3 linked regions of the Homo sapiens genome follow. The protein of the gene in region 3 interacts with the protein of the main gene of each other region in a pairwise test. Each region holds a gene or a part of one and is shown on either strand. Other genes may lie near its edges.

The links. Proteins that work in one complex are often made in the same cells at the same time.
Region 1: the proteins of ZMAT3 (region 3) and PRKRA interact in binary tests that used the Homo sapiens proteins (3 or more experiments, as listed by UniProt).
Region 2: the proteins of ZMAT3 (region 3) and STAU1 interact in binary tests that used the Homo sapiens proteins (3 or more experiments, as listed by UniProt).

What each region holds. Positions count from the first base shown.
Region 1 is NC_000002.12:178,434,167-178,441,194, forward strand, and holds part of PRKRA (interferon-inducible double-stranded RNA-dependent protein kinase activator A), read right to left. Parts: intron 6,078-7,028; exon of another isoform or gene 4,701-6,077; intron 2,154-4,700; coding exon 1,979-2,153; intron 1-1,978. UniProt on the Homo sapiens protein: Activates EIF2AK2/PKR in the absence of double-stranded RNA (dsRNA), leading to phosphorylation of EIF2S1/EFI2-alpha and inhibition of translation and induction of apoptosis.
Region 2 is NC_000020.11:49,150,326-49,157,353, forward strand, and holds part of STAU1 (double-stranded RNA-binding protein Staufen homolog 1), read right to left. Parts: intron 3,747-7,028; coding exon 3,608-3,746; intron 1,423-3,607; coding exon 1,257-1,422; intron 1-1,256. UniProt on the Homo sapiens protein: Binds double-stranded RNA (regardless of the sequence) and tubulin.
Region 3 is NC_000003.12:179,061,802-179,068,829, forward strand, and holds part of ZMAT3 (zinc finger matrin-type protein 3), read right to left. Parts: intron 6,009-7,028; 5' UTR 5,952-6,008; coding exon 5,682-5,951; intron 1-5,681. UniProt on the Homo sapiens protein: Acts as a bona fide target gene of p53/TP53. May play a role in the TP53-dependent growth regulatory pathway. May contribute to TP53-mediated apoptosis by regulation of TP53 expression and translocation to the nucleus and nucleolus.

The sequences.
Region 1 (7,028 bases), on a different chromosome or scaffold from region 3:
GTGGCGCGATCTCGGTTCACTGCAACCTCTGCCTCCCGGGTTCAAGTGATTCTCCCACCTGAGCCTCCCGAGTAGCTGGGATTACAGGTGCACGCCACCTTGTCTGGCTAATTTTTGTATTTTTAGTAGAGACAGGGTTTCACCGTGTTGGTCAGGCTGGTCTCAAACGCCTGACCTCAGGTGATCTGCCCGACTTGGCCTCCCAAAGTGCTGGGATTACAGGTGTGAGCCACCGCACCTGGCCTCCAGCCTCTTTTCTTTTTTTTTTTTGAGACAAGTCTAACTCTGTCACCCAGGCTGGAGAGCAGCGGCATGATCATGGCTCACTGCTGCCTCAACCTCAGAGGCTCAAGTCATTGTCCCCACCTCAGCCTCCCTAGTAGACTGGACTACAGGCATGTGCCACCACACCCAGCTAATTTTTCATCAGCCACCTTTTCTAACCATCTGTCTGCACTGACTTCCCAGGTTCTGCATCATTATTGGTTTACTGAGACAATGCACTTCACCCGTCCTTCAATCCCAAAGTAGCACAGAATATCAGGAGTTCTTTGAGCCCCTAAGTGCCCTACTTTCCCAGGGTCAGGGGACCCTGACAAGCAAGGTCCCCACATCTTTCTGTGGTTGGATAGGGATATAAAATTTCTCACACATGTTAAATCAAGATACTTTGGCCAGGCACGGTGGCTCACACCTGTAATCCCAGCACTTTGGGAGGCTGAGGTGTACAGATCACTTGAGGTCAGGAGTTTGAGACAAGCCTGGTCAACATGGTGAAACTCCCATCTCTACTAAAAAAAAAAAAACTTTGGGAGGCCGAGGTGGGTGGATCATGAGGTCAGGAGTTTGAGACCAGCCTGGCCAACATGGTGAAACCCCGTCTCTACTAAAAATGCAAAAATTAGGTGGGTGTGGTGGCACACAGCAGTAGTCCCAGCTACTCAGGAGGCTGAGGCAGGAGAATTGCTTGAACCTGGGAGGCAGAGGTTACAGTGAGCTGAGATCATGCCACCGCACTCCAACCAGGGCAACAGATCAAGACTCCATCTTGGGGAAAAAAAAAAAAATTAGCCAGGCTTGGTGGTGGATGCCTGTATTCCCAGCTTCTTGGGAGACTGAAGCAGGAGGATCGCTTGAACCCAGGAGGCAGAGGTTGCAGTGAGTTGAGATTGTGCCACTGTACTCCAGCCTGGGCAACAGAAACAATACTCCGTCTCAAAAAAAAAAAAAAAAAAAAAAAATCAAGACACCAAACACACACAACTAATTAGCTCTATAAATTGAATTAAAAGAAAATCCATACTGACTTGCTTTCCCATCTGTCCATATTTGTCTATCCAAATGATTAAGGGCTAGAGAAAATACAGATGATGATGGCTGAGATGGGATAAAACTATAAATTGACTTGGTTCCATTTACCTCCCAGAATCAGCATACAGTGACAAAGTAGAGAGAAAAGGTCTGGGCACCACAAACTTGTACTTGTGCTAGAAATGTAGGTGCCTTTTCATTTGCCCAGCAGGGCTAGTTTAACAGCCAGGGTATCTTCTGGGACTCTTCCCCAAATCTTGCTCTACCGCTGACTAGCTATGTGATCTTGGGCAAGTTTCTCAACCTTTCTGTGCCTTTCTTCCTTTACTTATAAATAAGGATAACAGAATTTGCTTCATAGAGTTAGTCTGAGGATTCAGTAAGTAGATACGTGTAATCTTAGAACAGTGTCTGGCACACAGTAAAACTCTATCTTTGCTATTGTTGTTTTTGTTATAACTGTATAGATGTTAGCTATTATTACTATCCACAAGAATGGGACATATCAATTATATATATTACTGGCCTAGTAATTATATATACTTAGAATCCCTGATCAATAAAATAAATTGTAATAGAAATTTTTATTCCTCAAACACATTTTTGTTCCTCAAACACATTTTTAAATAAACATGTCTTGGGAAAGCCAAAGAAAAAAAAATCATACCTATATCCAAATATGTTATATTAAAACCTTGTTCCTTGGCAATTTCACTAAGCAGCTGGATGTAATCTGTATTTGGAATACTAAGGAGGCTTCTTTTCAGTAAGTTGATCTTTTCACCAGGAGAATTCCTCAAGGAATGCCAAGTACATCCTAAAGAATGTCCTACTACATTTGTCTGAAAAACAGAGATGAAGATTTAGACTCTTGACTAGGACTGGGTTCCAACACCCGTACCAGTATCATTAAAAGTACTTATTAAGCACTCACATTTAATATGTTATAAAGCATGTTTAAATGGATAACATTTGGTTAATTTTCCAATTTAAACAAGACAACATTAAAAAGTACACATTTAACAATACTATATGTTTTTAAGAAGCACTTGCAATAATATACTGAAAGCATTTTGTATTTTGTATAGTACAAATGTTTCTCAGTCAAGTTTTCTGATGGTCACATTAAGAGGTACAAGATATCTGGAAGCACCATAAGTAAATCCACAAATAATTAAATCTGCCTAATGGAGCAATTTGCAGATTAAAATATAGAACAATTTTCATATCTTTGGTTTTTTTTGTATTAAATACCAATCACTATAACTGACAGCTATCAAACAGGAAAAAAAACAGAAAAAAAAACTAAAAAAAACATGAAATGTGCGCGTTGGGTTTGAGGAACAAGTCATTCAAATAAATGACAGGATGTCAAAAAGTTCTTATCAGACTTCTATCCCAGAACCCAACTGAGTATTTTTTTCCTTTTTCTTTCTGCTTTTCCTCTTTCCTTTATCCTCCCCTATATCCTTCCCTTTTCATCTCTGTCCTTAGAATGCCTTATATTTCCATATTAGTTTATGGTTCTCAAATTGCTTTCATATGCCATTAATAAAAACAACTACTTTCTGAAGTAAGTAGGGTTACTACTCTTAATATTGTTTTATTAATGAGCACGACAGAGGGGAGGCAATTTCCAAAAGATTTTAGAGATGGCATGATATGGAATTAAGTAATTTATTAGATTTACCAAATAAAAATTTACATTATAGAAACTTTAAAATACTGTTTTTAAATAAAGAACACTATTTACATGGTTAAAAATATACATGCACTAAGAACAAATATATAATGAAGAGTACAGTCTCTTTTCCTTACCACCCATTCCCTGAAGACCTCTGTTCTATTTCTTAGACATACTGTTAAACATTTTTCAGTATCTTCCCATAAATGTTCTATGCATATGCAAGCACACACAATCTTTTAAAGCAAATGATAACTTACTCCTCTACATCTTGTTCATTTTTCTTTTATCAGTGCACATATATGCACTGTATTTACCTTACGGATCTCCAACTGTGAGCTTTAGGTTGTTTCTAGTTTCTTGCTTTTACTAGCAATAAACACTCTTTTGCACTTGAATGAGTTTCTCTGTAGAATTATTTCTAGAAGTGGAACTGCTAAGTCAAAGAACATGTACACTTTTAATTTTGATAAATACTTCCAAACTGATTTCTGAACCAATTTATACTCCTACCAACTGTCTTGGAGGGGGCTTGTTTTCTCATACCCTCACTAATACCAGCTATTATCAAATTTTGTAGTTTTTGCCAATCTAAAAGGTGAAAATATTTTATCTTGCATGAATAAAGTTGAATATTTTTTCTTTTTTTCCCTTAATCGTTTGCATTTCTTCTACTGGGTTGTCTTTTTAACTGATGCATAAGAGCTTTTTAAATTTTCTCTTTTTTAAGAGTTAGGATCTTGCTGTGTGGCTTAACTCTCAAACTCTTGGGCTCTAGCAGTCCTCCCACCTTAGCCTCCCGAGTAGCTGGGACTACAGGCATGTGCTGCTGTGTGCAGCAGATGTGTACAAAAGAGCTTTAAAGGTAGTACTGAAAACAGTTCCTTTATAGTTCTATGTTGAAAATAATTTCTTCCCACTTTTTTATTGTCTTAATTTACAGATTTTTTGCTGTGCAGTAGGTTTTATGTTGTCAAATGTATTAATCTTTTAACCTAGGTTTTAAGTTAAAATGCTTTCCCCATGCTAAGATTTTTAAAAAGAAAAACTCTTCCATGTTTCCTAATATTTATACTGTTTCAAATTTTTATGTTCAAATCTTTGATCCATCTGAAATTCACTTTGGTGTAAGGAATAAGGAAGCATTCTAAATAGATGTCATACACATCAACAAATATATATATATAGCCCCCACCCAAATGTGGATGTAAACTGTTTCTACATCATTATTGAATAATCCATCCTCTCACCCACTGATCTGAAATCTCACTGTTGCTATATACTATGGTCCTATGTGGATTAGCATCTACGCCTGGATTCTCTATTCGCTCCTCTGACTATTCCTGGCCCAGTAACTTGTCTGACAAGTTCAGTTTTACAGTATGTTTTGTTCTCTAGTAAAGCAGCACACCCTTGCTCTCCCAACTCTTCCTTTTCAGTTTTCTTGGCTATTCTTGAGGGTTTTTTTCCAGATAAACTTCAATAAACGTGTATCAAGGTCCAAAATGAACGCTGGTAGGTTTTTTTTTTTTTCGAGTTGGGGTCTCACTCTGTCGCCTAGGCTGGAGTGCAGTGGCGTGGATCTCTGCTCACTGCAAGCTCCGCCTCCCGGGTTCATGCCATTCTCCTGACTCAGCCTCCGGAGTAGCGGGGACTACAGGCGCACGCCACCAGGCCCGGCTAATTTTTTTTTTTGTATTTTTAGTAGAGACGGGGTTTCACCGCGTTAGCCAGAATGGTTTCTATCTCCTGACCTCATGATCCGCCCACCTCGGCCTCCCAAAGTGCTGGGATTACAGGCGTGAGCCACTGTGCCTGGCCAAACGCTGGTAGGTTTTGAGTGAGACCACATTACATTTAAATATATTTACAATGTTTTCTGCTCTATTCTTTAGTAGACTTTTCCTCACGTGGTCCTACGCATTTCTTTCTAAGTTTATTTTCATATAGCCTATCCCTGTCTACAATTTAAATTGGGATCTTCTATATTCTAGTTATTATTTGTAAATAAGAAAACTACTGACTTTTTTCTAGTATATTTTCTCAGAATAGGATTTTCTATTTTTCTATAAAATGACCAATGTTATGAAGCTTCGTAAGTTTTGTCAAAGTGATACACACATACAGCAAAAAATCAAATAGTACAGAAGTATAAAAGCAACAACCTCTGCCTTGCCCCTTCTCCACCTTCAGGTCCCCTTCCCAGATACAATAATTTTTAGCTTTTTATTTTTAATTATTCTGGTTGTTACCTACATAACTCTGGGCAATATGGAAAAGTTATTGATTTTGTATATTAATTTCATAATCAGTTACCTTGATGAATTCTCTTGTTTCTAGTAGTTTTTCTTTAGGGTTTTAAAGGGATACAATCATACCATTTGCAGTTAGTAACCATTTTATCTCCTCTTATTTCCAACTTCGTACTGTTTTCTCTTGTCTAATTTGTTTTTAATTGGTGGGTACTTCTAGAACAAGGTTAAATAAAAGTGGTGTTGGTGGGCGTCCTTATTTCTGATATTAATGGGAATGAGTATAATGTATAAATATATAACCATGATTTTGGTTTTTTTCCAAGTTTTTATCAGTAATGATTGCTGAGTTTTATCAAAATTTTTTTGGCATCCATTGAGAGGATTATATATTACTCTTTGACACATTAATGTGGTTAATTAAAGTAACCAACTTATTAACCTTGAAATAGTCTTAGTTAAATAAACCCTACTTGTCAATGCTATATCATTATTTTAATATTGTACTGAACATTTTACAAAGGTGTTTCACCATAAGGCATATTGATCTGTAATTTTTTTTTTTCTGTTGAACTTGCTATTGTCAGGTTTTGGTGTATTATGTTGGTTTTGGAGAATAAATTTAAAAGTTTCCTTTATGTTATCTATACATTGCCTGAAAAGAGTTTAAATAGCATTGAAAATGATCTCTTCTTTGAAGATTTAACCAATTTCACCTGTAAATCTGTCTGTGCTTTGTAATTTTGGTGATACTGTTGACTCAAATTCCAAAAGCAGTAAATGCAGTGTTTTATATTTTTCTATTAAAAATGTAAAATCAAATTATATTACTCATTTGTATATAGTCTTTGATTTTTTTCTAAAGAATGAGCCCTTATTTTATCATAAGCTCAGTGAAGAAGTTGCTACAGTTGTACTTTTTTATTTCCCACCTAATACACTACTCTCAGATAATGTACCACATGACACACCTATCTGTGAATATCAGAATCTGAAGTTATATATCATGTGTAGGCCAATCTCTTAAGCTCTGAATTTATTTGTTCAGCTACTCGATATATTCACTTAGCTATTCCATAAGCTATTCCATAAGCACTTCAAATTCAATATATTTAGTTCATTATCTGCTCCCCTCTTGCTATTGCCAAGTTTAAAATAGTAATTTCCTCCCTTTCCCTTGCTTCCCACATCCAATCAATTACCATGCCCCTTTACCTCAGTTTTCTAAATAACTTTAAAATCTACCCATCTCTCTCCATTTTCCCAGCCACTACCTTAGTTCAAGCTGTCATGTCTCACGTGTCTTCTGTAACAGCACTCTCGCAGGTCTCTTTGATCCTAATTTCACTCACTTACCATAATGCAGCCAAGTGATTTCCTTGTAATGTATAGACTAGATCCTGTCCTTCCCAGATTAAAATTCTTTAATGACTTTGTACTACCCTTGGGATAAAGTTCACTTTCCTTATATAGGGGTCCCTTTAAGATTTAATCCCTCTTTACTTTGCTGGCCTCATTGAGACTCCCTCCCTCCAACACTATGTTCTACACACAACAAATCACTTAGGGCTCCTAGACTGCATACGATGTTTCACTCCTGGCCTTTGCACACGCTTTTTCTTCTCTCTGGAATTCTTTTCCCCCATTCTACAGGTCTTGGCTTAGACATTACTTCTTCCTGGAATCTGTCTCCAAACCTGTTTTTGTTGGATGCCTTCTTCTATGTTCCCACATCACACTCTGTAAGGACTAGCCTATAGAATTCCTTCCTTTCAGTAGTC
Region 2 (7,028 bases), on a different chromosome or scaffold from region 3:
ACTTACAATAGTCAATTTAGGTTATATAATTTTTACCTCCATTTTTTTTTTTTTGAGACAGAGTCTCGCTCTGTCCCTGAGGCTGGAGTGCAGTGGCACAATCTCGGCTCACCGCAAGCTCCGCCTCCCGGGTTCATGCCATTCTCCTGCCTCAGCCTCTCGAATAGCTGGGACTACAGGCGCCCACCACCACGCCCGGCGAATTTTTTGTATTTTTAGTAGAGATGGGGTTTCACCATCTTAGCCAGGATGGTCTCAATCTCCTGACCTCATGATCCACCCGCCTTGGCCTCCCAAAGTGCTGGGATTACAGGCGTGAGCCACTGCGCCCAGCCACCTCAATTTTTTTTTTCTAAGTGACATTCTATATCTCCTTCCTTTGAATCTGGGCTCCATGACTGCTTGACCTGTAGAATATGGCAGACACGATGCTGTGATTTCTGAGCCTAAGCCTTAAGAAACTGGCAGCTGCTTCCATTTCCCATCTTCTAGGATGCTTACTCTTGGCAACCAGCCACCATAACATGAAGAAGTATAAGCAATCCTTCCATAGGTCACCCAGGGATGAACTGAGGTCCTGGGGCCAGAACCCCCAGCTGAGCTCCTAGCTGACAGCAAGCACCAACTTACCAGCCACGTGAGTGAGCCACCTTAAAAGCAGATCCTCCGGCCCCGTGCAGATCCACTTCAACCAAAGCTGTGTGGAACGAAGACAAGCTACACCCTTGCCAAGCCCAGCCTCAATCACAGACTCATAAGCAAAATAAATGCCTGGAGATGTTTAAACCATCACTAAATTCTATGATGGTCTGTTATGAGGCAAAAGGTAACTGGCGCTTCTATATAATCAAGAGTGGCTGGTAAAAAACAGCTTCAGAAAATCCTCTAACCTGGTACCCATATATCACAGTAGATTCTGGCAAGCATAATCTTGAGCACCGAAGACTTCATCCATACATGTTCTTCACAACTCAACTGAATCACAAACTTTCTAACGTGTTCACACCGTATCATGTCACTCAAAACCATGCTACAGACTGAAAAAGAAGGCAACTGACTTTCTTGTTAAGAAATTTTAAAAGGAAAAAAGGAGTAAAAAGCAAGAAAGCTACAGAGCATAAAATCTTGGAGGCATTCAAATAAAAATTATGGACAGCTGTCAATGTGCCTTCTTAGAAAAGATAATGTGCGGTGACATCTCCCCACTACCCTCCTACCCTGTCGAAGCGTCAGGGAGCCTGGGCTCAACTCCTCACCTCCAGCCTCTCTGGCAGGGGCTCATTCTGCAGGATCCTCAACGCTTTGGCAGCAGCATCGTGTTTCGCAGCCTGTCTTGTCTTTCCTTTGCCATTAAATTGCTGTCCTCCCACAGAAAGTTCCACTTGATAAAGTAAAGGTGGAACTGGAAATGGGTAAAAGTACCTAGAAATAAAAGGAGGTTAGGCAAATTACAGTCTCAAGTTGATAAGTCACCTATACACTCTCTGGCAAATGCAAGTATTTCCTTCATCACGATCCTACTCACATTAGTGTTTGATGCTAATCACTCTTCATCAATATATCCAGAGATTTCATAAAAGCTTAAACTGGATTAGAATTGCTACACAGTATAAGCAAAGAGTGTTTAGCAATCCAAACTTACATCTCACAAAATACAATGGCTTATAAATTATGAGTTTATCACACTAACCTGCACTGACAAAATCTAAAATGAATTAGGCTTTGGCTGAGACAAAAACTTGGCTTGCTCTGCCTTCTCAAACCTTAGCTTTAAATTTGCATGTCTCCAATAGGAGGCTGGGAATTTTAATGCACAAGTCTTTCAAAAGGACCCTCATTTCAAGAAATCCCAATAAGCTGTAGCCTACCTAGCAGAACCCAGTTTCTTATCCATTTCCCTAGCAGAACCCAGTTTCTTATCCATTTCATAGCTTATATTTTTAAAATGACTATCCCCCAACAGAGAGCAGGGAAATGAAGAATTCCATTTTGCTCATCATCTATCCACTAATGTCTTTTTTTTTTTTTTTTTTTTGTGAGATGGAGTTTCTCTTGTTGCCCAGGCTGGAGTGCAGTGGTGCGATCTCGGCTCACTGCAACCTCCGCTTCCTGGGTTCAAGCGATTCTCCTGCCTCAGCCTCCCGAGTAGCTGGGATTACAGGCACCTGCCACCATGCCTGTATTTTTAGTATTTTTAGTAGAGACAGGGTTTCACCATGTTGGCCAGGCTGGTCTCAAACTCCTGACCTCATGATCCGCCTGCCTTGGCCTCCCAAAGAGCTGGGATTACAGGCGTGAGCCACCACACCTGGCCTCCACTAATGTCTTATTACTGCCAGCAGAAGATTTTTAATCCATGGCATTTTCAGGTTTCAATTAATATTTTATTGCACCAAAGCTATTTACAAAACGCACAAGTTCAAAAGTCAAAAAGTACCCAATAATCAGGTAATCTACAAATGCTGGGAATCATTGTCTTGCAGGAATCATGATGCTATGGGAATCATGTTTAAATATGATTCAGTTACACAAAGCAGTTACAAGGGTTATCTTTAGCCAGGCTGCTTGAGGGCACAAGCCACACTGCCAGCAAGAAATATGCTCAGGCCCTACCCAAGAGCAGTAGTTAAAGAAGCACAAAGGAGCCGGGCGTGGTGGCTCATGCCTGTAATCCCAGCACTTTGGGAGGCCGAGGTGGGCGGATCATGAGGTCAGGAGATTGAGACTATCCTGGCTAACAAGGTGAAACCCCGTCTCTACTAAAAATACAAAAAATTAGCCGGGTGTGGTGGCAGGCGCCTGTAGTCCCAGCTACTTGGGAGGCTGAGGCAGGAGAATAGCATGAACCCGGGAGGCAGAGCTTGCAGTGAGCCGAGATCATGCCACTGCACTCCAGCCTGGGCAACAGAGCGAGACTCCGTCTCAGAAAAAAAAAAAAAAAAAGAAGCACAAAGGGCCGGGTGTGGTGGCTCACACTTTAATCCTAGCACTGCGGGAGGCCAAGACAGGAGGACTCCTTGAGCCCAGAAGTTCAAGACCAGTCTGGGCAACATACGGAGACCCTGTCTCAATGAATTAAAAAAAAAAAAAAGAGGCGCAGCCAGGTGTGGTGGCTCACGCCTGTAATCCCAGCACTTTGGGAGGCCAAGGTGGGCAGATCATCTGAGGTCCGGAGTTCAAGACCACCCCAGCCAACATGGCAAAACCCCGTCTCTACTAAAAAATACAAAAAAAAATCAGCCAGGCGTGGTGGCAGGTGCCTGTAATCCCAGCTATTCGGGAGGCTGAGACAGCCTCCTCACTTGAACCCAGGAGGCAGAGGATACAGTGAGCCGAGACTGCACCACTGCACTCCAGCCTGGGTGACAGAGCAAGACTCTGTCTCAAAAAAAAAAAAAAAAAAAAAAAAAAAAAAAAGAAAGAAAGAAAAAAAAGAAAAGGCGGGGGAGGGGCACAAAGGCACAAGAGTAATTAAGACCAACTTCAACACTTGGCAGGCCCAAACCAAATCATTACTCCCTCCACAATCTAGAGGTACTGGTTTATGTAAAAGATCAGACACGTTTTCTCCTGTATTTTACAAAAAAAAAAAAAAAAAAACACATACCTCGGGGGATAAGCACCTCCTCTCATGTTGTAGTTATAGGTGGACTGCATCCGAGAGTAAGGGTCAACAGGCTTATACATTGGTTTTTTTCCAAGTTTCATGCACAGTGCATTTAGTTCTACAGTAGGGGTTATGCTTTCTGCAAGAAAGAATCGACAAAGAACTGTTTTTTTCTGGTATGAGAATGATACTCACTAAAATAAAATGTAATAGCATGCTTTCTGCTAATTGGATTCATGATACTTTACATAAAAGGACCTGGGTGGCTCACTGCTAGGCATCAGACAAGGAAATCCAAGAATATGCTGTGATTTCTAGATATTTATACACAGTCGACAGCACAAAATCTACTCTGAGGGTTACCAGAGGAGCCACAATTTAACCCAAGACATTATCAGTGAAAGCTATATGGTACAGCTGTCAGAAATAAGTTCCAAAACACATCAAATTTCACGATTAAAAAATCCCATGTAAATGTCCAAATTGTTTTACTGTTTGAGAATACTTAATCAATATAACCTTGGTTGTACTGATTTACAGGATTATTGGCTTGCACTCAGAAGTATGTCCGTACACAGTATTGAACGATGCATTTATTACATTACTAACTGGATGCAAAGCACTGTGCTAAGCTTAAGAAACACAATTCCTGGCCAGGCGTGGTGGCTCACGCCTGTAATCCCAGCACTTTGGGAGGCCAAGGCAGGAGGATCACAAGGTCAGGGTATCGAGACCATCTTGGCTAACATGGTGAAACCCTATCTCTACTAAAAAATACAAAAAATTAGCCAGGCATGGTGGCGGGTGCCTGCAGTCCCAGCTACTCAGGAGGCTGAGGCAGAAGAATGGTGTGAACCTGGGAGGCGGACCTTGCAGTGAGGGTGGCTCACACCTGTAATCCCAGCACTTTGGAAGGCCGAGGCGGGTGGATCACCTGAGGTCAGGAGTTCGAGACCAGCCTGGCTAACACGGTGAAACCCCGTTTCTACTAAAAATACAAAAAATTAGCCAGGCATGGTGGCGCATGCCTGTAATCCCATCTACTCAGGAGGCTGAGGCAGGAGAATCGCCTGAACCCAGGAAGCAGAGGTTGCAGTGAGTCGAGATTGCGTCACTGTACTCCAGATGAGGAAACAAGAGCAAAACTCTGTCTTAAAAAAAAAAAAGAAACACAATTCCTGCCCCAGAGGAGTTCAAAAAACACAAAGCACACTCAAAGAGTTACAATACAACATGATGTGCAACTTAAAGGTGAAAAATCAGTGAGGAGGTGGCAACCCAATTCTCTTCACAGAAGTCACACAAGGCCCACAAAATATTCAGGTATTTCCATTCTTGACATTTCTAATGAATTTGACCTGTGGTCATACTTGCTACGAAAATGAGTTCCATTTTCATACACAACAAGTTATCTCAAAATTATCAACTTCAGAAAATACATGCTATTCATTTTCCAATTTTTTTTTCTTTCAGTTCATCCAATCCATAAACCTTTAAAAACCATTTAAAAAGAAAACCAGCCTGGAAAGATTAGTGTCAGTGCACAATATTTAAAAACAACACTTTCATATCAAAAACAGAACACTAGAAATGGCAAAATCTAAATGCACATAAAAATCCACTTTAAAATGCCTCTTTAGGATGTATATAGAGAGAAATAAAAAAGACCTGATTCTGTACTATAACTGGTTCAACTAAATTTAATGCATGAATCAAATCTATAAGAATATCTTTGGGGTTTGCACAGAGGGCCACATGAATTACAGATCTCTCTCTTCCTTGCATTAGAATTATATTTTTTACAAAATTCATATAATTGCATTTTAAGTACAGTCTGAATCATTTTAAGAGCAGCTCTGATCCACAGAATTTGTCTGCAATAGAGAATAAACATGAAGAAAGTATACTGCAAAGAAATCAAAAGTAACAAGAAAGATGTGACTGGTAACTTCCCAGATTCCTTCCTACATACGAAGACCTGGGATGACTTCATGCATGTGAGGGGGTCTCTGCTAAAACAGCCATTAATGACACAGCCTCCAGGTCACTGATCCCCAACCCTTCACCAGCCATGCCTTCTTGATTAGTATGCTCCCTGAATGGGCTCCTTGTCTGAGGAGATACTACCTGCTGGCTTGTATTTAAGTAATATTTACATTTTTCTCATTCTTTTTAATAACTAAGAGACATACAACTGGCAATAAGCACTTCTGACCAACAAAATTACAATCAATATTACCACACTGACTTGATGTGACTCTAAATTAAACTTATATTCTTGCTAATCTATACACTCTTATCAAAAATATATTTTCATTAAACTTCGGAAATCTTTGAAATTATCTGGTCACCCGCCATCCTTCCTATGACCGCCTTTCCAGATTGTCAGGCGTTAAGGCATCATAGATTGGAAACCACTGCTTTACAATGAGGTTAAGGATTCCTAAAAAATAAGCATTTGTCACTGGTAGTGTAGAATCTGTGCTTTCAAAATCAACAAGTTAAGAAACCATTCATATACATACTACATGGTACCTCTAGACACACTTTTGAAAGGTACCTGTTTGGCCCATGCATAAGACCTGGATTCCTTCCTTCGCTACCAAAAGGGCTGACTATGGGCTTAGGAAATTTTGTTCCCTCCAAAGCTTTAGCAGCAGCTGTGTGTTTGACCTTTTTAATACCAGTTCACTCAGCTCCCCATTGCTGATTTCCAAGTGTCAGCAGTACTGTAAATTCCTAGAAATGAAAAGTGTGAGCTCTCAAATTCATGAAACCTGACATTGACTGTAATATGTCACTTGAACCTTGAACACTTTCTATGGTCATGGTTTAAGAGGCCTGGTCTTATCTTGATAATTCATCCTGTCATCCCCTTCTTATCCTTTTTTGTTGTTTTTTATAAACAACAACAAAAAAAAGAGATTGTGTGTGTATGCACTGAAATTTTTTTTTTTTTTTAAGAGACACAGTCTCACTCTGTCCCCAGGTTAGAGTGCAGTGGTGTGATCTTGGCTCAATGCAACCTCCACCTCCTGGGTTCAAGAAATTCTCCTGCCTCAGTCTCCCGAGTAGCTGGGATTACAGGCACCTGCCACCATGCCCGGCTAATTTCTGTACTTTTAGTAGAGACAGGGTTTCACCATGTTGGCCAGGCTGGTCTCGAACTCCTGACCTCAAGTGATCCACCTGCCTCAGTCTCCCAAAGTGCTGGGATTACAGGCATGACCCACCACGTCCAGCCTCAAAATTCTCTTCCAATTACTTCTCATGAAAGATATTTTGCAAACTTGATTTAAACACACAGCAGTACTTCACACAAATTAAGACAATGTTTGTTTTGATGCTGCAATGTGTTTGTGGGCTCTTGTTTGAAAACATAACCACCCTTTTTTTCAGTTTTTGAAATGGGGTCTTGCTC
Region 3 (7,028 bases):
TAATAGTGCAAAATTCCCTATTCACAATAATGCAAAAACTCAATGTTAATTTTCAACAATTGGCATCAACCTGCAAATAGAGCATGGAAAACTTAATTTGATGACAGAATGGATAAAAATGTGATCAATCTTGACAGTGTCAAAGTAAAACTATAGCCAGCTCAAGTTGGGAGTCAGAAAGGAGAAGAGAATGGAGAGGAAAAAAAAGGTAGGGAATGGGTGGAGAACAGGTGATTACTACTTTTCATTATAAATCCTTTGGTTCCTCAGGCATTATTTTAAATAAAAATATTTTTAAATTTTTTTAGGAGAAAGTTGTTACCATTGGCTAATGCTACAAAGGGGTCAAGTGAGAAGGAGTTAGATTTGGCCTGTAAGATCATGGTGACAATGGAAAGGACCATTTCAGCGGCCTATAGGAATGGAAATCAGAGTACAGTGGGCTGAGGAATGAATGGGAAATAAAGACCTGAAGAGAACAATTCTACCTGCAGAATGCTAAGGACAGGAGAGGAGAGGAGAAAGGTTGCTAATAGAAGGGATTAAAAGTAAACAGAAGGTTGCTGCTGCTATTTTTATTTATATAGAAAAGACTTGGGCATAGTTTTTGATTGAGGTGAAAAGGTGATGAAATCCAGAAAACAGGATGAGGAATCAAACTTGGACAAAAGAAAGGGTATCTATCATTTCGAAATAAGAAGAAATGAGGTAGGGGTAGACTAGAGGAGGAGGCAAAAAACTGGCAGGATCACAGAGAGCTTCTGTCCTCTAAAGTGATCAAAGCAAGAGCTAGAAAAGCCTACAGAGCTGGCGATTTCAGAGAGCAGAACAAGAAAACCAACAAGGATTGATTATTGGGTAAATGGACTAAGCTGACAGACGAGTAGTATGGTTGAAAGCATATTTACATTTGAAAATCATTTTATTTTGCCTCATTTGTTGGTTGAATTATTCTTCATGAGAATCTTTTAAGGTAACCTGGTATCTGGATCTAAAAGACTATCTCGGGAGAACAATCAAGGAAAACAAAGTTTTGCTTATTTACACAAGGTCCTACAGCAAGTTACTATCAAGGTAGTAACAACAGTAAGACAGCTGTGTGCCATCTCATTCTGCTCATTTGAGACCCAAACACTTCTAAACAATAGCAACCTATTTCAATCAACCAGCATTTATTAAGATAACATATGCAAGTCTCACAATCCTGCAGAGGAAGTACAATGACCCCTACTTTACAGATATTGAATAAAGAGAGATTCAGTGTCTTGCCTAAAGTAACTGAGCCAAGATCCTAGCCCAAAGTTGTTAGATTCCAAAGCATATATGCCACGTGTAAAGCACATGCATTAAAACCAAATCTGAAGTGTGTTTTGGCCATTCTCAGTCCACTGCAAGTCCATTTGGAAAAAAATCAGATAGGAGAATTTTGAATACATGAAAATTAGCTGAGATTTAATTCAGTGATCCAAACCTGGGTGATCAATATTAAAATGTAAGTGCCAAAATCAGTGCTTTAAATTTTGGGAAAAATCTAATAGCATTCTCTTCATTATGAATTATGAATTAAGACCACTACACTCAGCATCCTAATTCTAAAACTATTCTTTCACCTGTGTTCTCTTTCTCTAATCAATCTAATTCATGGTAGGTTGCTATCTGGCCACTAACTATTACAAATAGAAAGCCATGTTTATGACAAATTTTATAAATGTACTTTGAGTAAGTAGATCTTTTTAAATATATACATGCAAATTAGCAAATAAACTGGTGACTTTAAACTGTGGATGCCTTAGCAAAATTCATCCGTGCTTTTTGCTTTTCTTTATTTCTGTTAATAACCTTCCCTGCTAAAGCAATTCTTCCTCTGGGCATTTATGCTGATGAAACAGTGGTATGTTACCCCATGCCAGCCTTGCCCTAAGTAACCTGAAGCCTGCAGATAGACTTTAATAAAATGAAAATATGTTTCTCCTCCAAAGATTGGATTTTAAATTAAGTTATATCCAAAGCCCTAATTTTAAGAATATAATATTTGATGGCTTCATTAAAAATAAAACAATAGCTAATGATGTTTTGAAGCCAACTGACCAGTTTTTAAAAGTCCTTGGAATAAAACTAAATCTGTGATGACTACAGATACACATGGGTCACTGCTAAGGTAGCCCCAGCTTGGGAACACTGGGATGTCAGGAAAAAATGCTAGTGAGCTTAAAGGGAAGTATTTATTGGGCAGTTTCCACTGCGTGTCCTGGATTACTGGCACATGATACAGTCCGGCTCTAGTGTAACCACCATTGTTTACAATACCCGAGGCAATTTGAAACTCCACGATTTCAACAATGGCATCAACTGACTAAAAAGTTTTGAGTAATGTAATCACAGTGATTTATCACTTCACACAAATGTGTTTCTAGCTCATAAACAGGCTACCCGTGACCCATTTTATCTCACACATAACTGAAATAATGAAGGTACAGCTTGGTAATGCTCTGTATTAAAAATTAGTAAGTTTTTAGTCTTGAAATAAAATTTTACATCCATCATCTCATTTAATCCTAAACCACTTTATTAGTCTACAATCATTGGCATTCTACTTATTCCTGTGCTTGGTAAGCCTTACTCATTGGTCTTATCCTTCTCTTTTTTGTGTGTTTTTTGTTGTTGTCTTTGTTTGCTGGAGTGCAGTGGCATGATTATAGCTCACTGCTGCCTCAATCTCCCAGGCTCAAGTGAGCCTCCTGTCTCAGCCTCACGAGTAGCTGGGACTACAAGTGTCTGCCACTATGCCCAGCTAATTTCCTTGTATTTTTGTAGAGACAGGGTCTTGTTATGCTGTCCATGCTGGTCTTGAACTCCTGAACGCAAACTATCTTCCCGCCTCAGCCTCCCAAAGTGCTAGAATTACAGGTGTGAGGCACCACACCTGGCCTGGTCTTAGCCTTGTCTTCAGTAATCTTTCTTTTATTACTGCTTATTCATGTACACCCTCTGATGCATCTTTTTGGCTAACATTTCTACGCTTTCCTTCTTTGGTAGCTCACCCACTTCTAGAGTTATGTTCACACTCTGTTTATTATTCTGATCTACACTTTGCACTATCCACTCTCATCTTGACCATTTCTATCTTATTGAAATCCAGATTTCACTTCTAAGATTACCTTTCTTCTATGTTACCCTAACATAATTGCTCTGTATTTTTACACATGAACTGCTTTGCCTTAGTTGTCTGTTAAAACCTTCTCTCTTTAAGAGTTACCAATAACATCAGTCTCATTCGAATCTTTGCTTCTGAAGTCTTAGCAATATACTTTATTATACCCAAACTTTTCATTTTCTGTAAGCTCCTACTTTCTGATTACTTGCTTGCCTCTTTTCTTTCCCATCTTTACCCTGGTTTTTAGCTGCTTAAATTGTCCCATTACATCCTGTTCTCCTTCAACCTTTCCACTTAAAAATTCTGATTTTTGAGAAATTTACCTAAATTGTATTTCCCTTTTCTTATATTTTCTAATTTATTTATTCACTGTATCACTGAGGAAACTGAAATTAAGTATAATTACTAATCTTGTCAACTACATAGTTTAGAACATACGCAAAAATGTAAAATAAAAGAAAAAAACAAATGTTGATTCTGCTTATCTAGTTTTAGCCTTATAATCCAAAGACCTTGCATCAAACTGAATCTTCTCTATGTATCATCAGTAGCACCTTTCAAAGTCCATGAAGTCAAAAAGTTTTATTAGGAGAAAAAAAGAAATAAGGTATATGTATAATCCATGGACATGTTAAAATTACACACTGCCCGAGAGTTTTCCCTCATAAAAGTAAACAACTCTTCCTTAAAAGGGAATTATAGGCTGGGTGCGGTAGGTCACTCACGCCTGTAATCCCAGCGCTTTGGGAGGCTGAATCTAGCCAACATGGCAAACCTCCATCTCTACCAAAAATACAAAAATTAGCTGGGTGTGCTGGTGTGTGCCTGTAATCCCAGCTACTCGAGAGGGTGAGGCATGAGAATCGCTTGAACCCCGGAGACAGGGGCTGCAGTGAGCCAAGATCGCGCCACTGCACTCCAGCCTGGGCAACAGAGCGAGACTCTGTCTCAAAAAAAAATAAATAAATAAAGATAATTATATATGTGTATAGCATACAAGTGGGTTTGCCCCCAAGTTAATGATTTGTTAGGGGCTTTATATGGCTAATAATTAAACCTTTAGAACCCTGGCTTCTTTTTTCAAAGTGAGTCTTAGGCTATAAAACTGAACATTCCGTAGGAATAAATGAAGAAAGCTAATACAGTCTTGGAGTTGAGATTAATCATGCTAACAGACTCTGCTTGAATGGTAAAGACAGGCAAAGGAAGACCCTGTATCAAACAACTGTACTGGACAGCAAGGTGATGAGAGTACGTACTGGGGAAAGGGGGAAAACGTAAAAATAAAACCAGAAGAGGCCTTTAGGAACCAATGATGACACATGTCAAGAGCTGCGAGATATAATTAACTCAACTCTCTGCACCTGAGGGCAAAACAAAACCACATAATGGGAACTTAAAGGAGGCAACATATTATGTCTTCCCCTAAATACCAGAGAAAACAATTGACCATCAAAATACTTCCGACATACAATCAAAAAGCAACACAATAATCAGTCTTTGGGATCAAAACAAAACAGAAAAGACTTAACACCCACAGTAAACAAAGTGGAGAAAGTTATAGTGCACAACAGAAGAAACACCTGTGTAACAGTCTTCTACCATACTCTCTTATTACTAGAGATTTTCAAGCAGATAATAAATAATCAAATCAGTGATGACCCGGGAAGACATCATTCACTGGGTTTTGTCCTTGATTATCTCCCAGGTCTCTTTTCTCCAAAAAAGGAAATTATTTAACTTTATACAGACAAATGTCTAGAATAAAAAGAAATATTGTACCGTCTCTTGCTAACCAAAGTTTAATTTTCCATTTGTTCTTAGGTAATATTACCCTTTAAAATGGTCCTTTCCACTAGCTATTCAACATGGAGGTGAAAGCTTTAAATCTTAAAAACCAGTATTAGTTTACGCTAATGGGCTAAAATAAATCAGAGTATGTTTATTATGAATGAAGGATAGGGCTCAATATTGCAATGTCATTTTATTCTCACCACAAAAAGATACCTGTGTTTTCCTTACCAGTGATAGGATATATAAGAGTTAGAAGTCAAAAATGGAAAGCATAAGAGTCATGCACAGAGGTCACCTCGAAATGATGCAAATTATATTAGCTTCTAAACAATTTTACACTGAATTGAGTTCGGTACATCATGGGTTTTTTTGTTTGTCTGAGACAAAGTCTCGCTCTGTCACCCAGGCTGGTAAATAGTGGTTTAAATACTTGTTCTTCTTAAGACTACAGGTTCAGATGCCAGCATAGATCATTTACATTTGCCTACAAAGACTGGTAAGCTATCGCATGCCACACAGCTTAGTGTAACAGGTTGAGATCCAGTCTACAAAAAGTGATACTTATTTTTAAAGTAAAAACATAAGGCTTTTAATCAAACAAATTCATAGTTAGTTGTTCTCTAAGCCATCTTGGTATTCCAGGCACAGTCATATCTGGAGAGACAACTGCTAAATAGCCAGAGCCCTGAAATGTTCACCCTACTCAATGCCTGGTTTTCTTTTCTCCCTTTACCTGATAATGAGCCTGGGCTTGCTGTGCAGAGTTCAAGGTGACATTGCAGAGTTTGCAGTACAGGGGCTTACATAGCTCCTCCAGGGCACAGTCTTGCTCCCCTCCCTTCGATAACTCTTCTTCCCCTGCAAGAGGCAAGGAAGCCTCCTGCCCAAAAGGCTTCTGTGGTGGAAGCTGCAAGGTTCCTGTAGACCTGGTGGCCACTGACATAGGAGGCGAGGGTGAGGGCTGCTTAGGTGGAGGAAGCACGGCGTGTTGCAAGAGGATCATTGGGTAGGGAAGCCTGGGGCATAATCCAGTGGGTGATGAGAAGCAAGGTCTTCAAATCTGAATCAACAGCAAAAAAACAGAAAAAAAAACTCACTTGAAAATCAGACTTCAGCAAGATAACATGTAAATGACAACATAATCTGACCCTTTCTTCTACTTCTCCAAACCCATCTTTGGGACTTCTTTCCTTTGGCCTCATTTAGCAGACTTCCCCTGCCTGTTAATTCATGTTAACACGGTGCTCTTCCACTGAGAATGGCTTTATAGATTTGGCTTTATTTTGCTTGGCACAGTTCCAACTGCTATCCCTTTGGCCCGTGAACATTAACAGCATTGCATCCACGGCTAAATCTAAAAGTCACATGGCTGAAATGGACATCAAATGTCACCTAGTCCAGACCCCTTCCCTCAGGCACACTTACACTTAAACACTCTTAATGATAATCATGCACAGACAAAAACACCACGAGCTGTCCAGGTGTGGTGGCTCACGCCTGTAATCCCAGCATTTTGGGAGGCCAAGGTGGGCAGATCACCTGAGGTCAGGAGTTCGAGACCAGCCTGTTCAAGACAACATGGTGAAACCCCGTCTCTACTAAAAATACAAAAATTAGCCAGGTGTGGTGGCGAGTGCCTGTAATCCCAGCTACTCAGGAGGCTGAGGCAGGAGAATCGCTTGAACCGGGGAGGCAGAGGTGGTCGTGAGCCGAGATCGTGCCATTGCACTCCAGCCTGGGTGACAGAGCAAGACTGTGACTCAAAAAAAAAAAAGACCACCAGCTAAAAATCTTAGCAAACATATCTTCCAACCAACCAATATCAAAAAGAGTGTATAAAAGAATATCATCTTGCAGAATTCTTAAAGCACTTATAGAACTAGCTAAAATTTCAGGGAACTCTAGGAGTAGCCTAAAGTATGACAGAAATAAATAAAATATGTTCCTTCTGATCAACTAGCAATATTTAAGTAGTTGAGCAAATGTATAGCAGAGGTGGCAAACAGCCTGTGGGCCACATACAGCCACAGATGTGCTGTTTGGAATATACAGTTTTGTTTTCATTTTTTTAAGTCGAATT